Homo sapiens: one gene and its partners. The protein of the gene in region 1 purifies or fractionates together with the protein of each later gene. This does not show direct contact. Each region holds a gene or a part of one and is shown in the gene's direction. Other genes may lie near its edges. The genes, in order: SOX6, NFIA, NOP14 and TAF4.

Evidence for each region.
Region 2: the proteins of SOX6 (region 1) and NFIA purify together in Homo sapiens (co-immunoprecipitation; one large-scale study listed by IntAct). This does not show direct contact.
Region 3: the proteins of SOX6 (region 1) and NOP14 purify together in Homo sapiens (affinity purification with mass spectrometry; one large-scale study listed by BioGRID and IntAct). This does not show direct contact.
Region 4: the proteins of SOX6 (region 1) and TAF4 purify together in Homo sapiens (affinity purification with mass spectrometry, with the first as the bait; one study listed by BioGRID). This does not show direct contact.

What each region holds. Positions count from the first base shown.
Region 1 is NC_000011.10:15,981,035-15,987,368, reverse strand, and holds part of SOX6 (transcription factor SOX-6), read left to right. Parts: intron 1-948; coding exon 949-1,165; intron 1,166-6,334. UniProt on the Homo sapiens protein: Transcription factor that plays a key role in several developmental processes, including neurogenesis, chondrocytes differentiation and cartilage formation.
Region 2 is NC_000001.11:61,087,713-61,094,046, forward strand, and holds part of NFIA (nuclear factor 1 A-type), read left to right. Parts: intron 1-436; coding exon 437-968; intron 969-6,334.
Region 3 is NC_000004.12:2,942,534-2,946,431, reverse strand, and holds part of NOP14 (nucleolar protein 14), read left to right. Parts: coding exon 1-20; intron 21-1,202; coding exon 1,203-1,304; intron 1,305-2,205; coding exon 2,206-2,359; intron 2,360-3,898. UniProt on the Homo sapiens protein: Involved in nucleolar processing of pre-18S ribosomal RNA. Has a role in the nuclear export of 40S pre-ribosomal subunit to the cytoplasm.
Region 4 is NC_000020.11:62,057,724-62,064,057, reverse strand, and holds part of TAF4 (transcription initiation factor TFIID subunit 4), read left to right. Parts: intron 1-6,334. UniProt on the Homo sapiens protein: The TFIID basal transcription factor complex plays a major role in the initiation of RNA polymerase II (Pol II)-dependent transcription.

The sequences.
Region 1 (6,334 bases):
TTTTGAACAACAATCAGGAAAGAGCAGGGATGCATGTGCTATTAAAGCAGACTAGGATATTGCTGGCTGCAGAGAATATTTGTACAACTTTTCCATTTGTTTATGTATGAAAAATCTCCACTGAAGAATCGCTAACATCCAGTCTGCACAGCTGTTACCGCTTTATTCACCAGCGAGACACAAAAATGCAATTTGATACATGTAAAAAAACACATCCCCTCTTCATCAAGTGTTTAGATAATTCTTTATAAACAATATTAGAGAAGTGAATACTTATCCTTCTTCCTGTATAAACCGTATTAAAATTTTTGTACTTTTATTGGTACAGCTTTGAATGAGCGTTTATAGTACTTGAAAATGGTATATATAATTCCAATGGTATCTTCCGGTTCTAAAGCTATAACTTCTTAGGTAGAGCTTAGGTTTTTTAATTACCTAGGCCATGGCAGACTTGTGCACAGTAGTTTTTTATATATGGAATGATTTCAACATCTGCTGACATCTTGTCAAAGGATAGTTTCACTAAAGATACTTGGAGTTTGGGAGATGTTTGAATTTCTAGGACAAACAAAGCTTTTCCTGAGAATCCTGTCATGCTCAAAAGTATGCTTAGGAGGTTTAGCCTTTTATCCCTGTTGAGAGGGTAGGCAGGTGGATGGGGAAAGACCTTGGTGTAGGCAATGATCTTTAAGCAGCAAAGATATATTTTAAAATACTATAGTAGCATCAGTCTTAAACTATTGAGATAAATAACACAAGAAAGTATCATACGCAAAATTGTTCTTTGTGTTATAGACTAAAAGTATAGTTGGGACAGCCAGTGGTATGTGGGAATTGGAGCCACCCAGCGCACAGATGAGTGAAGTGATGGGAAGGTATATCTAGTTGTGTTTGCCTAGAATATGTTGCCTTGACCACTTGGGTACTTAAGGCTATTTTTATTTCTAGGATCTCGCTGGAAATCAATGTCCAACCAGGAGAAGCAACCTTATTATGAAGAGCAGGCCCGGCTAAGCAAGATCCACTTAGAGAAGTACCCAAACTATAAATACAAACCCCGACCGAAACGCACCTGCATTGTTGATGGCAAAAAGCTTCGGATTGGGGAGTATAAGCAACTGATGAGGTCTCGGAGACAGGAGATGAGGCAGTTCTTTACTGTGGGGTAAGTATTCCTGAATTTAGCCACCTGGGCTTTACTTTTGCGGTAAGTAACTATAGGATGGCTACTGGCAGTATGTTTGGGAAGGAGATTAGGGAAAGAGGAGGTTGTGGCATACTGAAGGGGCTTGGCCATGAGAATCTTTGCTGTGTCATAGGGGCACTGCCTTGCACCATGGCTTTTGCTCAAATCAAGCCAAACCTGGAACAGTTCACTCCCAGCTGATCACCCCTGTCATTGTCTCCCAAGCCAATTTAAGATGCTCAGTGGCCACACACAGAGTTTCTGGTAGTTTATTTAAGCAGATACACAGGGAGGAAAAATAAAAACTAACCTTAAGAAATCCCCATAAGCTTTCCAGCTTCTCTGGGTGGTGCTTCTGACTCTAATCACAATAGTCTGCTTTTGTTGTGGGATCTACCACAAGATAATTGGCCTCGACATTGGTTAGAGGACCTCATTTTTGGCATAAGATCCAGAACTCCTGTTGCAGTAAATTATTCTGTGGTGGGAGCAGTAACAATGTGTATTTTCTTGCTTAAATCAGAAACTAGACATGCTTTTGATATCTTCAAGTCTGATTTCATGTCATTTTGTTTAAAAATTAGGTAATAGATTTCTGGTATAAATTTCAACTTGGCTGACTGGCTGTCTGCATTCAAAAGAGGCCCCTCATAACCACAGTAGTCAGGATAAGTGGGGATGCAGATGACTGTAGATTCCAGCATACCCAGACCTAGAAGCACAGCAGGGTGGCAAATCCAGAGGGCCATTTGAGGCACAGACCTGAAGCAGCTGGACTCAGAGTAGGGAAACACTTGGGAAAGAGCTTGAGAGAGAGAAGCAGAGTAAGCAAGAGGGAAGTTGCATTTGCTGTGAAGTTGGAGGAGAATTGAGGAGCTGTGCTGTGCCAGGAAACTAAGAGAGCTTCACTTGAAGGTAGAAAAAGAGGTACCTTAAAGGAGAAGCCAAGAGCTATTCACTTTTAAGGGCACTCAAGAGGTAACCCTGTGGAACAAAAAGTTGTTTTCAGAGCATGTGTTTAAAAGGAATAGTAAATAGAGTAAGAAAACAAAGCCAATGAACGTAGTCTGGGTCATGAATCTGTGCAATACACTGCAGTGTTTTCGGGAGGAGCGTGGGCTTTGGAGTTTGACTTCTGGGGTTCACATACTGACTGTGCCACCTACCTGGGCAAGTTATTAAACTTCTCTAACTTTTGTTTTCTCATGTGTAAAATGAAATGAATAGTGGAAACTATCTTGTATGATTGTTGAGAAGATCCAATGAGGCAACGCTTTTAAAAGTACTTTATATAGTGCTTAATACGATATCAATAAAGGTGAACTCTAGCATTATCATTACTATTTAATATGTATTTCCTATCACAGAAAACCATATTTTATATCACACCAGATGATCAGTGAATTTCTTTATACCATGGCAGAACCTTTTAGAGGTAGAGAGAAGCTTAAGCCACTTTATTATAAAAGATCCCAGTATGTTAATAAATGAAGACATGACAAAATAGGATTATCAAATTCCTCTGTATTATAAATGTTTGCATTTTTAAAGGTAATGCGTTTAACGCTAAAAAGGGCAATGTGGTATAATTGGGCTATTCAGCTGATAATTAGAGGATTTATGAAAAATACTAATTCATAGTCCACTTTAAGATTATGTGATAAACATTCTCTTTTAATCCCGTTAGTACACCTCTAAGATTGTGTATAATCTCTTTTGAACAATCCAAAGTTTAAGTTTGGGACCTCTTGTGATTCCTGCCCTCCCTCAGTCATGTTCCCTGTGTATGTAGTGATACATAGTGGGGCTGTTCCGCCAGTCTGGAAGGCTACTAAAGGTGCTGTTTTAATACCTTGGTGTAATACTTATTTGAAAATATGAGTTGCAGTAATACTATTGAATTTAGTTCCCTTTACTAAAGGGTACATTAAAACAGCTCTAGATCAAAATACCACAACATGTACCAATGCATGTAAAAATAAAAAACTAAAACAATTTAATAACATCTATTATTTATTGACTATCTAGTGTATACTAGGATTTTAGATATATAAGTCACATAATTCTCTAAATAAGATAAAGAAGTTGAGTTTTAGAGAGTTTCTATGGCTACAGAAAGGTGATAAAGAGCAAAGGTTCAAATTCAGGTATTGGCCCCCATCATGCCAAATGACTGAGGAACTGTCTTTACTACTTTGTCTCAAAATATGCCTCATAGCCCTATGCTGGCAGTCATGAGTGTGGCTATGCCATCTGAGCAAGAGCTCTTAGCACTTGGAGAAAATGAAGTCTCTGCTTGTGGTATATGGTACATAAAAAGAACTTTGAAATTTAGAGACTAAGTATCCTGTTCTCAATAGTGTAGAACAGTCCTTTATGGAAGGATCATTTTAGACTGCAGAATAGGGCTACTGAAGTGCAGGCAATGATCAGAATGTCTTATTCTTTCATCTCAATGCTGAGCATTTTCCTCTGCCCAGCTTTGATAATACTTGCTATGTAGAGCCAGGTGTTATTTCTGCTTAAGGATTTGTATTCTCTTTTAAGTAGTTGTAGTTGATAGATTATTAATTTCCTGAAGTTTTTCTTTGGAAATTGATCTTTATTACATATGAGGTTATTACAAGAGTTGAGCAAAAAACAAACAAAAATTCAAATATTTCTATTGACGTTTTGATGGAATGGGTTCAGATCAATTTTTATAGCTGATTTTGAAAAGACATGCATAACTTTCAAGCCAATAAAAGTGCATATACTGCTCAACATTTTCATGCATTTTACTGACTACACAACTGTGGCTGATGAGTTAGTTTTTTTTATTACTTAGCTATTATGAAATGAATTTATCAATAATATGGAAGGGAGCAATGTTAGCCCTTGCCTTGGTTTTAACCTCTTCAGTTCGCAGAGTAAGTATCAGAATGTTGTAATAATCTGGATAAGATTATTATCTGGATTATTCAAGATAATAAATGTGTGTGTGTATGTGTGGGTATAACACACTATTATATGCTAATCTATTCATGTATGTATCTGGCTTTGTATATTTGTTTGTATGTATCTGGCTTCTCCAACTACAGAATTCTCTGAAACTCATGTGTACAGAAATAATGCCTCATTTACTATACTAATTTAATAAAGTGTTGGACACATAGCTGGTTTCAAATAGGCCCTTACCAATTCTGAGTGTGGTGTCCAGAATATTCCCTCTACTATTAATGTAGAGGGAATATTCATTAGGGTACATGTAGCTACAATGACGTCTTCCCAAAGAACTGTGACCGAATATACTTCCATTTATTTGAAACTTATTTGGTAATTTACCTATGAACTCATAGAGAATTATGCAGGTACATTCAGCCCTCTGTATCTGTGTGGATTCAACCAATTGTGGATCAAAAATATTTTTTAAAAAAATTCGAGAAAATGTTACATTATTGCTAAAGTACACTATGTAGTTAGGTCTACAGTGGTTGCATCTGTATGGAACATCTACAGACTTTTTTTTTCTTGCGTTTATTTCCTAAACAATTCAGCATAACAAGTGTTTACATAACATTTATATTGTATTAGCTATTATAAATAATGAGATTGTTTAAAGTATATAGGGGATGTGTGTAGGTTATATGCAAATACTATACCACTTTATAAAAGGGACTTGAGCATCCTCAGATTTTGTTATCTGTGGGGGTCCTGGAACCAATCCCCCATGATACAGATGTAAAACTACTATAAAATATTAAATTTGGGGCTACTTTTTTAGCAATGATAAAGATAGATTATTGAATACTTACTGTGTGCTGTGTACTCTGCTGAGTGGATTATACAGATTATTGCAAATACAACAAATTTACAAGATAGGGAATATCATTCTCACTATTAAATTGAAAAATGCAATATTCAGAGATGTTAAATAATTTGTGTAGGGCCACACAGCTAGTAAATGGCCGAGCTGAGATGTAAACCAGGCTTATGTGAATGTGAAACATATGTCCCTTTTACCAAAGGACATTGGTAAGGACACGACATTACACACACAGAGGCGGTATAGCATTGTGGTTAAGAGCATCAATTCTGGAGTCAGACTAGTCTGGCTCAAATACTAGATCTGCACCTTCTTGGCTGTAGGAACTAATACATGGCAATCTTTATTCCTCTGAACTCTCCCCTTGCCCTTGGGAAACATTTAATCTCTCTCTAACCAGTTTCTTCATATGTAGAATGAGAATGACAATACCAATGACATATGCAGGACTCTTCTTGAAGCCTGAGTAACTTACTGTTTGTAAAGTGCTTAGAACATTGCCTGGCATATGAAAAGCTTTAAATTCAAGTAAATATTATTATTCTAGAAAAATAATACTGTGTGCCAAGTATATATTCTATGTTATATTACAATAATTATTTTAGTGCCTTGTACTATAAGTGATTTGAACATTTGCATTTTAATCTTAATTTTAAAGAGGTCGAATCAATCCTATTTAAGACACCTATAAAATACAATTACATTAGCATAGATTAGCCATGCTTTTTTAAGTATTGTCCTCCTGTAAAGACCCTGGATTAGAACATTCAATAGGTAAAGTGAACAGATTATTATTATTTCTGTTCCTTCCTGCAGTATCAGCTACAGAGATATGTGACGTATAGGCTTATCTCCTAATGAAACAAACTTCCTTGTCTTTATTTATACACTTTGAAGGGTCTGAAGGGTCAGCAAACAATGGGGCTTTGCCAGCATAAATATGTAGTTACTTTGTAATTGGCAAAGCTAGATTACACTCCAGAAATATTCCTGTAATTTGGAAGTCATGTAGCAATGGTGGGCTCTATCAGGGCCAGCTTTTACTCTTTACTTAGACTGGGAGGAAGGGTTCTTAAATATCTCTGTTCATATCAACTCATGTATATACTTTTACAAACATCCACAAATGTTGTTTTGATGTGCACATTCATTATTTGTAAAGCCCAATACCTGCCAGCTATTCCTGTTTGTGAAATCTGCAGTGTTTGAATTTTGACTTTGAAATTGATCTATAAAGGAAGGAAAAAATGCTTTTTAGGAAAGCAATTTCTGATAGACAAAGCTTGAACCTGCTGGCTGGATTTCTTATTTTGTTCATTGATTTGTTAGTTAATTGGTAAGGG
Region 2 (6,334 bases), on another chromosome or scaffold:
TTGCCAATCTGGCGGCTGGGCCCTGGCTGTACTACAAGTGGTGAGGTCAAGGCTGGGACAAAATTAGATATGCCTTCCTTGAAATAGGGTTAAGATTATACATTGTTATAAGCATTTAGATAAACTTCACTTACTATCTAAAGGATGGGGAGCTAGGCCCGACAGTAGTAGCTGGTGTACCCTGGTGAACATATTAAAACAGTTTTTTAATTTTCAGCAGTTTTTTTATTTCCGATCATAAGAAATGATACTGATAGTTTTCTCTCCCACCTTCCCAGACTTCCCATAGGATCCTGTGTATGATTTTGGTAACAGAATGCTCTAATCAAATTTCAAGTGAAATGAGGAATTTCTTTCTTAAGGTGACCCGCTGAAGAAAAGTTGTTTTCTTTTGTTTTCATTCTACTTATATTTTTCTTTTTGTTCATTTTCCTAGGATGAATTTCATCCTTTCATCGAAGCACTTCTGCCCCACGTCCGAGCCTTTGCCTACACATGGTTCAACCTGCAGGCCCGAAAACGAAAATACTTCAAAAAACATGAAAAGCGTATGTCAAAAGAAGAAGAGAGAGCCGTGAAGGATGAATTGCTAAGTGAAAAACCAGAGGTCAAGCAGAAGTGGGCATCTCGACTTCTGGCAAAGTTGCGGAAAGATATCCGACCCGAATATCGAGAGGATTTTGTTCTTACAGTTACAGGGAAAAAACCTCCATGTTGTGTTCTTTCCAACCCAGACCAGAAAGGCAAGATGCGAAGAATTGACTGCCTCCGCCAGGCAGATAAAGTCTGGAGGTTGGACCTTGTTATGGTGATTTTGTTTAAAGGTATTCCGCTGGAAAGTACTGATGGCGAGCGCCTTGTAAAGTCCCCACAATGCTCTAATCCAGGGCTCTGTGTCCAACCCCATCACATAGGGGTTTCTGTTAAGGAACTCGATTTATATTTGGCATACTTTGTGCATGCAGCAGGTAAGTGCGATGGTGAGAATTCCTCCCACTTTCTTGTGTGTGTTTCTTTCCTGATGGCCTCCGCGTTATGCCGGATTCTTCCTGAGCTCCCCAAGTTGCAGGCCACGTACATGAAGCCAGTGTGGTTTCAAAGATTGAGAGAGGTGCCACCTTCATTCAGGTGAAAAAGCATAGCTTTGAGCGAATTCTCACTAAGTTCAGCTCTTTTGGTAAGTAGTGTTTTCAGAGGCGTTGGTAATCAGATATGTGATATGTTTAAATCACATTTTTTGATGAGGGGATGAGAGAAGCCTCGTGAAAACCCTTTTAATAAAGAGTATATTTTAACTGACAAATGATCTAGTTTAAAAGCATTTATTTTGGTATTGAGGCAATATTTTTAGTTGGTTTTCTGCTGGGAGTGTTTTTAACCTACTGAGGCCTCTTGAACCCCTTGCCAATTAAGAAGTTGGAGGTAGATTACTATCAAATTGCTGATCATTTAGGAAGGAAAAATAATCACATTAATACGCAGACTTAGTAGCTTTGTATTTAGGAATTCTTAGTGTTGTCTCAGATAGCTAAGGGAAACAAACCAGCTCTTTCAGTAATTGATGGAGAGGTTAATATTAAAAATAACCAACCTGTATATTGCATGAACACATTGAAAAATTGCTATTGATAATTGATGTAGTGAGTTGCTTTGATTGTAAAATCTTAAATTTTTTTTCTGTTTTTTCAAGGCATGTCTTACCTGTGCATGTTTCAGTGTTTAGAATAGCATGCAGGATAAAACTATTGAGGACTGGATAAAATAATGCATTTTTACTTTGTTCCTTTCGTCTTGTTTTAGACAAAAGGCTCATTGTGCTATGTGAACGCTCAGGTCTTGTGTAACTTGTTGACTTTATATATGTACATATCGGTCTTGCTAGATTACCTTCATGGCAGTTACTTGAGCCAGATGGAAGAAAGAGGGTTGTGGAATCCTACCAGTAGGTTGTTTTGGGGTTCAAATATTTAACGTTTTTTTTTCTTTTTTTTTTTTTTTTTTTACAAAGGAGAGATGTTACCTGTAAAAACACTGCACTTTTCTTCAAAACATTTTTAATTCTAAAAATGTTAGTGAGTTTTTAAAGAAGCCAGCTGATAGCCTGTTCTCTATTATTTTTCTCAATATATGTTTTAGAAAGAGAACTTTTGTTATCCATCTGCCCTTACATAAGAAACTGGAGAAATTAGCTTTGCAAGCATGTCACATCATCATTTGCATTCTGTTGGCAGGGGATAGATGAGTATTTTAGAGGATGTGAGCTGTAAGTGTTTCAAATATTTGGGTTTTCAAAAATGTATACTTAATTATAAGAATTGCCTTTTGCTTTAGCCAATTCTGGGTAGCAAGAATGAAAAGTCAGCACCTCTCAAGTGACCTCTAAGCAGGAATAAGTAGCCCTTTTTTAACCCACTCTTAACCCTGTTGTTGTTCATTTGTTTTGTTTACTGAAAAAGTAAAGTTAAAATTTTTAAAAAATGTGTCTGCATATGTTAAGCACAGCAAAACGCAAAAAAAGTATAGGTGTTACAGGTGCTTTCAAGAAGCACTCTTTAAAATCTTGTTTTTACCTTTTAGATATTTAGAAAAATATAACCTATAAATTATCCCGAATAGATGACCAACATCGAAACTTGAAAGTGCCAACAGGTGATGCAGATCATGATGTGTGCTTCCATATAAGATAACATCAAAATGAAATACCTGTGAAGTTTTTGTCGGTGTAAGCAGTGTCCATTCTAAGTTTTCGTCTTAAACATTTCTCTGTTATTTAAAGAAATGCAATCTTTTCGCTGTTCTCATTACGTGCCTTCTTTTTCGTCGTTGGTTTGTTACTGTGCTATTGCTCCCAATCCTTGAACTAACACAGTTGTTGGTTGTTGCAATGCCTGAAGGGGTTATGTTGGTAAAATGACATTTAGAAGGTTACTTAGGAGAGTTAGCATCCTTATTGCTTATGAAAGATTTATTGACAGCAGCATAGATCAGACTACTCTTCGGTTTGGTTTTCCTGATGTATCCCAGAATCCCTTGTTATGCCTGAATGCCAGCCAAATGTTTGGCCATTGGTTTTCACGGGACCGCAGTAATGGCTGCTTCTCTGTGCGCGCAACAGGAAGACTGTAAAAGAAAATATTAAGGGTCTTTTGTCTGAAAATATTTCAAATTTGATTTAAGAGATTCAGAGACCTGTTATTTGTGGAAGGGAAGCTGCCAATACAAATATGAGGTAGATCGGTCAACTTACATACAACTGATTTGACAAGCATCTGTTATAATACTGAAGATTTGTAAACACTAAACAATGTTTTTACCTCCTTAAAAGTTTTGAGAACTTGCCAGTATTGGCAGGAGGCAGAGACTCTGAAACGTGCTTCAAGATACATGCCAAAACCATTGTGGCCTTTTCACCTATAATGCGTTTTTTCTCGCTCTTTCTTTTAAATTGTTATATTTTTTTCCTTTCCAGAATGCCTTTTTTTCCCCCTAGATGGTCATAGAAATTAGATCTTCTTTTCCTTCTGAAATTTGTGTGTAATAATTCTTGCTTTATGTGTCCACCTTTCTTTGGTAGGAAGTTGAAATCTCAGAACATACGTGAGAATACTAGAAGCAAATGCAGAATCAATCTTTTTTTTTTTAAAGCGGAGGTGATTTATTCTAAGACTTATTGACATGCTAAAATATAATACATAAACTACATTCCAGTTTTTTCCCTCTAAATCCAGTGGCATTAGAACTGTGAATTTTGTGGCTGATAAGCAGTAACAAGTGTAATGAAATTGGAGTGATTTCATAAGCCTGAGAATTTCATCTTGTTAAAAGAACAAAACCATTTTATGCCCTTAATTTGGTCTCAATTTGAGTTGTCCTTCCCATGTATCATATGACAACTTGGGGATACTATGGTATTGTGGCAAATGGTTTTCTTTGTGGGTGTGTAACAGTAAAGCTAATTTATGACCAGTCTTTACCAGATGATCTGTATCAGAATCTACAATATACCCGGCACGTGGCAAGGTCACAATTTAAGTTGTTAAGGTCATAACCTTAGCCACCAGGCATTTGACCTTTTAGATAAAGTTAACCTTTGTTCATTAGTAGGCACTCAACCGAGAAGTTTCTGGAGAGTTGTTGTTTTTTTTTTTTTAACCACTTCTGTATAAACTTCTGGTAATGTAATCAGATTCTAGAAAGATTCTCAGTCAAATTAGTTAGATTTTGTGAAAGGTTATACTTTTTAAGGACTCATTTCTTGGATAGAGGCAGGTTGCTATTTTTAGGCCATAGAATGACAGTTTCACAATTTATATTTGATATTATTACCTGCCATGGGGTAGAATAAAAGCTTGGAGGCAGCTGTGTGGGGACATTTAAAATCTAAAATTAAACAAATTAATTTATGTTTAATTCAACTAAGGCCTTTGCTAATTTTCAAGTGACATTAGGCCTAAAAGCTAAATCACAGTGAGCCATCTTCACTTTTTGCAGATGAGGAATTTTCTAACATTAGAAGTATTTTTAGCAGTCTTAAAATTCAGTTTGAAAGATTAATAAGTGACCACAATTTGTCAGGTAATTGCTTTAATTGTTAATTAGCCAGTGACAAAGCAAGTTGCTGTTGTCCTAATGGCAGCAGTATGAGTACTTGTTAGTTTTAAGGTAGAAAGAGAACACTTTTGCACGGTAATCTTTTAGTGCAGTAGTTACTGATTGCTTCCATGCTGCTACCATTATTACCTTTACTTAATTTTGCTTGCATCAGGAATAGCAAAGATCCTTTCAATCACTGAAGGAGCTGTTTCAGTGTCTCGGAAGCCTGATACCTGTCCTATAAACCTACTCAACAGTATTACTGATTACCACATTACCTGTACCATATTGTTCACTTAATTATGCTGACATGAATGCTCATTTCAAATTATTTAGATTCTTGCTAGTTTTGTTCTGCTGTACCTCATATTATTCCATTTCAGCCAAAAGAGAGCTACTCCCATTCAGGTGCATTTTAGTTTTATTTTGGCTTCGTGATTGCCATTCCTTCATATAGTAATAGAGAAAGCCGTGATATGCAGATAGACCAGATGGTCATGTTGACAGATTGAGAATTCACTTCCTACTGCTTCAGAGCAGGTGTAAGATTAGGAGTGTCTGTGTAGGGGCGTGTGTGTGCTTCGTGTGCATGTGCGTGCACATCCAGGCTGCACAGAGTGCTGTTTGAGCAATGGGAATGATTTCTTTTTTGAAATGCTAGTATTTTAAATACAGTGTAATTATACAGATAAGGTTTTCAGTGCATATAGAATATTATAATTTTTATAAATAAATCGCATTAGATTGTTACAGTTTATAATTTTATGCCAAATTAATTATGAAAATTATTTTAATTTTTAGGTAACTTCCTACATTAGTTTGAGGCAACATTGCATATCCAAAATATATTCAATATATTCTTTTAGCAGCTACATGTATGTGTGTTTACATTCAAATCTAGGACTATACGTTTTTGTAATTAAACTTTTTCAGTAACTTAATAAACACCCTAGTAGAAAGTTGTGCAGTTACTTCCTGTGATTTGTAATTATTAATAAAGTGTGTTTGGAAAAAGAATATACACTGTATATTGTATACACAATATACACAATATACACTGTATATTGTAAAACTAATATACAGTGATATTTAAATTAGGAGAGTAAGGATCACCCTATCAAACTCTAGCTTTAAGCTCAAGGTGGATTTTTTGGCTGATCAAGCTATTGTAAATTATTGATATATGGCATATTTTTAGAAATTTTAATTTATCTTTTAATTCTTCAAAAAAGATAGCAGTAGCAGTCAACAAATTTGAGATAAATATTGATTTTACATCCTTGAGTGTTTTCTGTGTAACTTGAGGATAGTAACAATATCCTTTACCTAGAATGTAGTAACAAAATCCTTTATCTGGAATGTAGTGCAAAAGATGGTAGTTCTAAGGCAGAGAGTGTACAGGAATAGGGAGAAATAGTTGTTCTGGAGTAAACCTTTGAATGGAAGTCAGTTCATTTATGGCTAAGAGGTTGAGTGTGTTGGTAAGAAAATTTCCCAATGCTTCTGGCTTGGATTTTCCTTGTCTTCTTTTCCACCCTGTGATGAATAGCATTAATTTAAACCTATTTAAGGCTAGTGTGGGAGAAACCACAGCCTTTGTTGTGGTCACTGCTGTACACAGTAGGACTGGGTGTTTCATTTGGTTAAGGCCTCAAGCTGCTTCCAGAGGACACGGGACAGCCTGTCGGCATTTTAAATCTTGCACAGAAGCAGCAACAATTCTAATTGCTCACAAATGTCA
Region 3 (3,898 bases), on another chromosome or scaffold:
CATTGCCAGGGTTGGATGTGGTAAGCAGAGTTCAGTCTAGGCACTGCCCCTGCCACAGAAGTTCTGTTTGGCATCACAGAAGGTGGACGACGGGTACGATGCTCTTGGCTGTACCCTGTGCTTCCAGGGTGATGTGGAGTGAGCTGCACGGCAGCGAGGGTGATCTGGAGTGAGAGTGCACGGCAGTGAGGGTGATCTGGAGTGAGAGTGCACGGCAGTGAGGGTGATCTGGAGAGTGCACGGCAGTGAGGGTGATCTGGAGAGTGCACGGCAGTGAGGGTGATCTGGAGTGAGTGCACGGCAGCGAGGGTGATCTGGAGTGAGAGTGCACGGCAGTGAGGGTGATCTGGAGTGAGAGTGCACGGCAGTGAGGGTGATCTGGAGTGAGAGTGCACGGCAGTGAGGGTGATCTGGAGTGAGAGTGCACGGCAGTGAGGGTGATCTGGAGTGAGAGTGCACGGCAGTGAGGGTGATCTGGAGTGAGAGTGCACGGCAGTGAGGGTGATCTGGAGTGAGAGTGCACGGCAGCGAGCCTGGGAGGGGAGGGCACTCCTCCACTAGCCATGGACTAACGTGTGGGTCGTGCAGGGAGATTCTGGTTTGATTCCACGTGAATGGTGCTGTATTTGGTCCAGTGACAAAAACATTGGAAGGCAAATAGAACCACGGTATTGTCCTTAAGGGCCCAAGCCTGTGGGCTGGTTTAAATTGGTCTCGGTTTCTATGTTATTCAAAGGTTGGGAGACATTTGTACGCTGAGATTTTTAACAATTTTATAACAGCCTCATGCTGTATTTTCAGCTTTAGTAACTTTAAGGAAATACTTGCTGAGATACGCTCTTTATTCTGTTGCCTGGTGTTTGTGTTGAAATGGATTCACAATAGTTAGCAGAAGCTTAAAAATGTAGGACTTAGGTTAGTGATTTTTAATCAACTCCCCAAAACATGATCTGAGCCCGTGTCTATAACCATTGTTGACTGCTTTGAAGTCTTCATGGGCCTCAGTGTCCTCACTGCACGTTTAGCTGGTTGACCCACGGTGGTTGGACGCCTGTTCTGTGACACTGAGGCCAGAGCTCTGGGCCAAGGAGATGCACCCTCTCCTCGCCAGATCCTGTTCTTGGCTCCGGAGTGTTTGCGGGGAGGGCATATGGATGGACTTCATTTACCTTCTTTAACCTGTGGTAACACTTTCTTTCCAGCTCATTTATTTGAAAATCACTGGGCTGCTATTTCCAACTTCCGACTTCTGGCACCCAGTGGTGACCCCTGCCCTCGTGTGCCTCAGTCAGCTGCTCACCAAGGTGCGTTCTCTCCACATGCGGCAGGGGTCGGCCTGCTGCACCACGGGTGGCCGGAGCCACAGCCCCTCGGGGCCTTGTGGAACATGAGTGTGGCTGTTTAAGGGCTGCAGAGACCGAGCACTGCGGTTAGGCCAAAGAGGGCCCATCTAAAAGAGCCCCGGCTCGAGCAGCCCCAGATGTGGGTGGGAGTGGGAGGGCCTGGTTTGGCACCTCAAGGTTACAGATGGTGCTACCCCAGAAAACAACCTTTCAAGTTAGTGGTGAAGTTATCCAGTGTGATGATAAGGGCTTTTGTTCCCTTTTTGGCTTAAAAAGTTCAAGCTGTTCCTTTTTCTTTATTAGGCATGTGATTGGTACATGCTTAGTGCAGTAATCGTACGCTCTGTATGGGTGGAAGGAACTTTATAATCAGTATAGCTCTGGCCAGGCGCGGTGGCTCACGCCTGTAATCCCAGCACTTTCGGAGGCTGAGGCGGGCGGATCACCTGAGGTCGGGAGTTCAAGACCAGTGTGGCCAACATGGCGAAACCCCGTCTCTACTAAAAATACAAAAATTAGCTGGGTGTGGTGCCACATGCCTGTAATCCCAGCTACTCGGGAGACTGAGGCAGGAAAATCACTTGAACCCGGGAGGTGGAGGTTGCAGTGAGCCGAGATTGTGCCATTGCACTCCAGCCTGGGTGGTAAGAGTGAAACTCCGTCTCGGGAAAAAAAAATCACTAAAGCTCTTTATCTTGTTTTCATCTCATTTGATGCTCTCGACACTGCTATAAGGTGCGGGGGTTCCCTCTGTACTTGTGAAGCTCAGTGGGGTGCGTGGTTCATCAGGGAAGCCCGGTGGTCGGCCTAGCATGGCATGACATCGTCCCAGGACAGTAACCCCCCATATGTTCCTTTCCAGTGCCCCATCCTGTCCCTCCAGGACGTGGTGAAGGGCCTGTTCGTGTGCTGCCTGTTCCTGGAGTATGTGGCTTTGTCCCAGAGGTTTATACCTGAGCTTATTAATTTTCTTCTTGGGATTCTTTACATAGCAACTCCAAACAAAGCAAGCCAAGGTGAGTTGATTTGAGGGAGGTTCCTACAAATATGTTATACTTTAGAATTTTTTTAAGTAGTTCATACTCATTGTAGAAAGTTTAGAATATGCGAAAGTAGAGGAAACACACAACCTGCCACCCGCCGCACTGTCTGTCCCTCTGTGTGAGCGTGTGCACGCGCCACATGGGGAAAAGCAGTGCTACCGGTGACCTGTGCTGTCCAGCGTGGTTGCCAGGGGCCAGAGTCTGAACTGAGACGTACCCTACCTGTGACATATGCCCAAGTGGCGAAGACTTAGTGTCAGAAATACTTAAAATATCTTAATTTTTTGTATTATGTGTTAAAATCATAATATTTTGGTATTTGGGGTTAGATAAGGTCTATTGTTAAAATCAATCTTAACTTTTTACTTTTTCTCACGTGACGACAAGGCAGTGTGAAAGTTCTCGTGCAGCTCACACAGGCCGCGCTGCTGTGTCGCTTCTCTTAACGCTCTGAATTCAGGAGCGAGGGCGGCAAGAGCAGTGTTGGGATGAGGAGCAGTCTGCACACTGGCTGCCCTCCTGGGCCCTCACCCCAGCCCCTGTGCTCCTCCCCCTTCCCCTGATGCCAGCCCTGCTCCTGGATGCTTCCTCAGCACTTGCTGCTTCCCTCTGGGGGGTGAGGAGCTGCACAGCCTCTTCCTGAGCTCTTCCATGTCTGTGGACGCCTCTCCCAGCCTGACCAGAGGTTGGACCTCAAGGCTCAGACCCCTGTCCTCTATTTCCAGCTCACCGTGCAGTGCTAAGCGCCTGCATGTCCAGGGGACTGACCTGAGGAGCAGGTGCTGTGGCATCATTCACACCACCAGCAGAGTCCCTTCCAAGAGGGGTCTGGCCCACTCTTCCGGTTCAGTGCTCCCATTCTGCCACCACCTGCCTCCCAAGGCTCCTGTCTGTCAGGCTCGGTGCTGGGCGCCAGAGGGGCGCGGCCGCCCACATGCTCCCTGCCTCCGGGAGAGCCACCTGTAGATAGCTGCAGTCCCACGTGTGAAGGGCTGTGACGGAACAGGCTGGGCACAGGTGGAGTCAAGGAAGGGGTGGGCATCTCGGCTTTGGGGAAGTGTGGGGCGGGGCCTGACCCACGCCTTCCCCTCTCGCTTGGCCCGGCACCTCTGCCCCACTGTACCCACTCTCCACCCCTCCCCGTGTAGCCACACCCTCGGCCTGGATTGCCCTTCTCCGTGGCGAGTGAATTGACTCCTGCGTCCTACAGGCCTTTGCTGACGTCTGCCCCTCAGGCCTCTCCCGCCCTCCACCGTCACCCCCGACTGACTCTCCTGTCTCCCTCCTGCCCCTCCACTTTCCTTTCTCGTGTTCTGTCTGGTCCATTTGCTCCTCTGGGTGCTGTGCACTGCCTGTCTCCCCGACAGGGGCAGGGACTTCAGTCTGTTCCCGGATGTGGCCTGAGCGCCTCATCAGCCCCATGTGTGCCTAGTAGGCCCCAGGAAGTCTGTGGCCAGCAGGCCTCTCAGGCAGGATCAGGCACTTGGCTCTCACCGCGCCCCCTGCCAAAGC
Region 4 (6,334 bases), on another chromosome or scaffold:
GGCAGTACCTGGGGCTGTGAGTGGCAGCAGCTGTCCCCTGCTCAGTTCTGCAGTTAGGCGTGTGGCCTGTGTCCCCACTTAGCCTTTCTGCCCCTTGGTGACCCTGGGCTCGAGCCTCTTCAGTCTCCAGGCGAGGACGGGGGCGCGACGCCCCCTCCTTGAGGCTCGGGAACTCTGGATGGAAGGCTTGGGCTCCTCTGCTGCCACCAGGCAGGGAGAGATGTCAGGCGCATCCTGCGAGAGTCCTCCCGGCGCGCAGCCTTGCTGAGAGCCACGCTGTGGAGTAGGGTTTCAGCACCGTGTGTGTCACTGTCTCTTCCAGAGCTGCGTTGGTGCCTAAAGGAAGGAGCGCCTAGCTACTCTGGTTGCTGCCCCCTCGGGAGGGCAGTGGGAGGGCGGTGGCAGCAGATGTTCTCGCTCCGTGCAGGGGTCTCGGGGCGATACTGGCTATGCTGCGGATGCCTGGGGCTCCGACGCCACTTCCGCCTGGCAGTTCTCACGCTCCTGTCTAGTCTGCTGTCTCTGCGACTCCTCAGGGCCCCTCAAGTTTGACAGGAAAGATTGCCTGGCCAGCATTGCTGCTTTTGTCTGGGGCTCCCCGTCCCTCCCCAGCCGCCGTGGTGGGTGCTGGGCAGGGGAGCTCCTCCCCGGCCTGTGGTGACGCGTGCCGTGCAGTTGTAGCAGCGCGGTGGCAGCAGTAGTAGGAACTGCAAGGAGAGCGTGGGTCCCTCCTGCGTCCCCTCTCTGAATGGAGCTATTGGTCACTTTGACAGGGTTGCAGAATCTTCAGAAGTGAAAGGATTTCTTGTCCAAGTATGTGAGGTTCGGGGCTGGTGGTCAGACTCTGGACAGGGCAGGGGTGGGGAAAGCCTGTCTGGGCGGCTGCTAGGCTGCAGTGCTCCAGGGAGGAAGAGAGCTGTGAAGCTACTTCCCGGGGTTGCTGAGACGCCCTTTACGACAAGCTTTTGGGGTACTGAAGCGTTTGTAGGGGTGTTTTGCCAGAGGCTTGGTTTTGCTGTTATGTGTATGTTGACCTTTTAGTAGGAAACGTGGCTGATCTTTAGTAACGTTGTAAAAAGATGTTTGATGGCTGTGATCTATTATGTAAACTGTCACAATGCTTTATTTATAAAAATGTTTTTCCAGAGGTCCCACGTGTCTCAGCGCAGGCCAGGTGCCTGTTGCACCCCTTTGGGTAGGTATTGGACTCTGTCTTGTGGGGCTGGCCAGGTCCTCTTGCTCTGAGCCACTGCAGAGGTAAAGCCTCATCTGTCTCTTTCTTCTGGGAGGAGGTGAAGGAATACGTGGTTGGAAGAGGGCATCTCTGCTGTGTTTATCATGAGTGATCCTGGGACTCACTTCCATCTTCTGTTTTAAGATCAGTTTTAGGGTCGGGTGTGTTTGATGAAGAGACAACTTGAAAAACAACTGTAGGAGTGTTGACTGTGCGTGATTCCTGTGTGTGAGGACAGAGGAACAGCTCACACAGACGTTTGGGTGGCAGTGCTGAGAGCGGTGCTTTCAAGGAGCCGAATGCTACTATCTAAAAAAGTGAGAGATTTACCCCATCTCTTCATGGCCTCCTGCAGTTGATCTACTGATGAGGAATTTTGATTATGTTATTTGTTTCAATAATAACCAAAGCAAAAAAAAAAAGTATCAATAAAACTACCAGTATCCCAAACCAGAGTACCTTCTTTTGAACAGTACAACTTAATTCTGTAAATCAGAATGGCAAATTGCAAATACTCTGGTTACTTCCTGTAATCGATTGATCAGAGAATATTAAATTGTTCTAGTTGGTTCCGTTTTCATTGAAATATTTCGTAATAAAAATGTTTAGAACAAAGATGGAAGTAACTTATAAAAATAACTCTTGCTTGGTTAATAACTCATTCTCATTACAACTCAGTCTTGCAAACTGAGGAGGAGCCGGGAGTATTAGGGGTGGGCAGGGTTCTCAAAGCTGCATGTGGGTGTCAAGTGGAGTAGCAGACGGGTGGCAATTGGATGGGGTGTGAAAGGGCCTGCCCTTCCCAGCCTTCCCTCCGTGGAGGTCTTGGGTGGGAGAAGGGAGGGGACAGAGGTTTCACCCTGAAGTCTTTAAGGCTAAGCCTTAGGCCCGAGTGTTTCAGCCCCATAGTGCACACCGGGTATGTTGAATTTGGTTTAGGTAGCTGTCATGATATTCTTTGTCAGGACAGTGTTGTAAAGACAGTTATGTTAATGTAATTGTAATTTGCTGGTTTGAGGTGCCAGAGTTTAGATTTTATTCACTGAGGAAAAATGAGAAAACTCAGTCTTTAGTGAGATTGTTGCAGATGACACAGTTGTCCCAAGATCACGGAAAAGCACTAGTTATGTACAGCTTAGGATAGTCATAACGTCATAGTCAGGTTGTGATTACAGCTGAAAGAAGAAAAAGGTGATTTGACACCCACATTAGCATGTTGGTAAATTGTTGAGAGATCTTTTCAGATCGGTGTAAGGTAAAGAAGCTCATTTCTAAAGGTTATCTTTTGGCCTGGCAAATTCACATTTTCTTCAGTGTATCTTGGTCTATTGTGCTTTCATGCAGAATTTACTCTCCTTTTGCTCTAAGATTTGGCCCAAGTGTAGATTCCCATTCCAGGACAGAAAAGCACTTTCTCACCATGGGCCTTGATCCCTTGGCCTAGGGGGCGTGTGCTTGCTGCATGTTTTAGGATGAGTACTCCCAGGTGAATGTGTGTCTGTGGGTGCTGTCTGGAGCATTGGTTCCCATCTGTGGGGAAAGGGGGAAAATGTCCACTAGCCCTTAATCGCGCTGTTGGGACGGGTTGGATTTGGCGAGTCCAGGCCCATGCTGGGTGGCGGCATGCAGACGGCCACCCCTGAGGTTGCAGGAGCTGTGAGTTCTGGTGGCCAGTGGTGGCAGCCAGTGCTCTGGCACAAGGGACATTCCTAAAAGTTTAGATTTTGTGACTTGAGGGCCCTGTTGCCGTTTGACCTGGGAGGAATATGTTGTTCCTCGGAGCCTTGGCTTACCCAGCTGTAAAGTGGGGTTGCCCTTTTGGTGAAGAATGTGAATTCTGTCAGGTTGGGCCAGATAACATAGCTGTCAGGTGGCGCTCACTATTCCAAACTCTCCCAGTTCCCCTCATTTTTCACTGATTTTCACACATTAATCCAGACTGGATGTTTTCTCAGTGACTGAGGTGTTTGGTGTGGCAGCTGACTGGTTCTGTCAATGGGGAAGTTACCGAGGTCTGAGGTGGGTCACCCTGGGGCGGTGGTTGCCAACATAGGGGAGGGTTGCAGTGGCCTTTGGAGGCCTGGACCTGGGTGGAGGGCTCACTTTAGGCTAGAGGCCTTAATCTGGTGTTTCTTTTGACATACTCAGGTAGGAGTGACATTTGAAAAGAACAAAGAAAAAGAACTTTTGGGGAGCTGTGTAAAGACAGCCCTGGACAGCTCTGCCTAGCATAGGGCAAGGGCGCCGCTCTGGGTCTTCCCTTCCTCCCTGCCCCCTGCCCCGCGGCTGGGGTCGTCACCATCGCCTTCGGGATGAACAGAGTCATCTTGGTGACAGGTTGGGATGGACCTCACCTGCCTTTGGTGTCTCAGAGCTGGTGACCCTCATGGCTTAGTGGCAGCCAGGAGTCGGGGTCCTGTGACGCTCTTAGGAGCCTCTCTCCTCACTGCTTACTGTGCCCGAGCACTGCATTCACAGCAGAGGTCTATGAGTTTGAACAGAGGATGACGTTTGAAGTTCGTTACGGTTGCCCTGGTTCTTAGGGCCTGTGAGAAGCTTTGTAGGAGAGGGTGTCCCGCTTGCTTCTGTGGCAAATGGACCTGAGGCAGGCCCCGGGCGCCTGGGAAGTTGGCCTTCTCCCAGGGCAGAGAGCAGAGCCACCCTGGCTTCCAGGACTGCCCCCGGGCTCCCCGGTGTGCTGTGGAAGTTGCCCCTTAGACATCAGCACAGGGAGGCCGGGAGGCGGCGTCTGGTCAGAGCAGCACAGACCGGGCTCAGCAGAACAGACTGGTGGGCGTGTCCGCATCCCGAAATCAGAGTGGAATGGAGACAGTTCCTGTTCTACCTCCAAAGCCTTTTCTACTGTATAATGTGAGTTTTCTTCCACTTAAGGGATAAATTTGAAGAAAGCTTTTATAAATTGTTGGTTGTAAGTGAGTTGATCAAAGCATAATTAGCAGCTGTGTTTGAGGATCTTGAAGCAGAGGTGTAACAGGGCTCTGGAGAAGCTTGCCTGAGATTTGGGGTAATTTGCAGGGTTCCCGAAGTGCTTTGCTTTTCTTCTTCATGGTGCTCAGTAGGAACCTCCAAGCCCTCGATCATCCAGGAAACAGTTGCTGTTTAGGGTGTTCACCTGTGGTGCCCGGCTCAGGCAGCGTGATGGGGGCGTTTACTTAATCAGGCCTTTGATAGCAATAAAGCAGTTAAATAAAGGGGGCTTTTGGCTGCAGGCCCTTCTGTGCCGAGTGCTGTGCACCTGGGCTTCCTGGACGCTTCTGCTTCCAGGTGGGCCTGCGGTTGCTATGGCATTGTGGTGTCAGCTGCAAACACGTACACAGCTGTTCTTTCCAATTCTTGCGTGGAATAATGAAGTAGAATAAGTGCTGTCAAGTTATGTTCGAAAATGGGGTGCTTAATATTTCCATGGTTGGACCATGAAAGTTTTGAGTGAAAACTTTTGATTTTTACATATCTCAAATGAACATTTGCACCAAAGATGTACAGCTTTCGAAAAACAAAGAGATACATGTTGTCCACCATGAGGCCCCTCTCCCATTTGAGAAAGTACCTGGTGTCCGCTGTTGGTCAGTCCGCGGTGGTCCCAGGCTCTTCTCCAGGCCTGCCTTCTGCCTGGAGCAGGCCATGCTGCAGTGTGCAGGATGATGTAGTGAAGTGCCCCCAGCTTCTCCCACCGTGGGTGTCATGTTGTGGAGCAGAAGTTGTCGTTGGGAACCGCGTGTGAGGGCAGGAGAAATTGTTTGTTGGGAGCCGCATGTGGGGACAGGAGAAGTTGTCTGTTGGGGACTGTGTTTGGGGACTGGAGAGGTTGGCCCCCCGAGCCCCATTGTCTGTGGCCTGGTGTGTAGACCTGTGTCCGTCCTTCCTGAGGTCTTGCTGAGGTTGGCCCCCGAGCCCCATTGTCTGTGGCCTGGTGTGTAGACCTGTGTCCGTCCTTCCTGAGGTCTTGCTGAGGTTGGCCCCCGAGCCCCATTGTCTGTGGCCTGGTGTGTAGACCTGTGTCCGTCCTTCCTGAGGTCTTGCTGAGGTTGGCCCCCGAGCCCCATTGTCTGTGGCCTGGTGTGTAGGCCTGTGTCCGTCCTTCCTGAGGTCTTGCTGAGGTTGGCCCCCCGAGCCCCATTGTCTGTGGCCTGGTGTGTAGGCCTGTGTCCGTCCTTCCTGAGGTCTTGCTGAGGTTGGCCCCCCGAGCCCCATTGTCTGTGGCCTGGTGTGTAGACCTGTGTCCGTCCTTCCTGAGGTCTTGCTGAGGTTGGCCCCCGAGCCCCATTGTCTGTGGCCTGGTGTGTAGACCTGTGTCCGTCCTTCCTGAGGTCTTGCTGAGGTTGGCCCCCGAGCCCCATTGTCTGTGGCCTGGTGTGTAGACCTGTGTCCGTCCTTCCTGAGGTCTTGCTGAGGTTGGCCCCCCGAGCCCCATTGTCTGTGGCCTGGTGTGTAGACCTGTGTCCGTCCTTCCTGAGGTCTTGCTGAGGTTGGCCCCCCGAGCCCCATTGTCTGTGGCCTGGTGTGTAGACCTGTGTCCGTCCTTCCTGAGGTCTTGCTGAGGTTGGCCCCCGAGCCCCATTGTCTGTGGCCTGGTGTGTAGGCCTGTGTCCGTCCTTCCTGAGGTCTTGCTGAGGTTGGCCCCCCGAGCCCCATTGTCTGTGGCCTGGTGTGTAGACCTGTGTCCGTCCTTCCTGAGGTCTTGCTGAGGTTGGCCCCCGAGCCCCATTGTCTGTGGCCTGGTGTGTAGACCTGTGTCCGTCCTTCCTGAGGTCTTGCTGAGGTTGGCCCCCGAGCCCCATTGTCTGTGGCCTGGTGTGTAGGCCTGTGTCCGTCCTTCCTGAGGTCTTGCTGAGGTTGGCCCCCCGAGCCCCATTGTCTGTGGCCTGGTGTGTAGACCTGTGTCCGTCCTTCCTGAGGTCTTGCTGAGGTTGGCCCCCGAGCCCCATTGTCTGTGGCCTGGTGTGTAGACCTGTGTCCGTCCTTCCTGAGGTCTTGCTGAGGTTGGCCCCCCGAGCCCCATTGTCTGTGGCCTGGTGTGTAGGCCTGTGTCCGTCCTTCCTGAGGTCTTGCTGAGGTTGGCCCCCCGAGCCCCATTGTCTG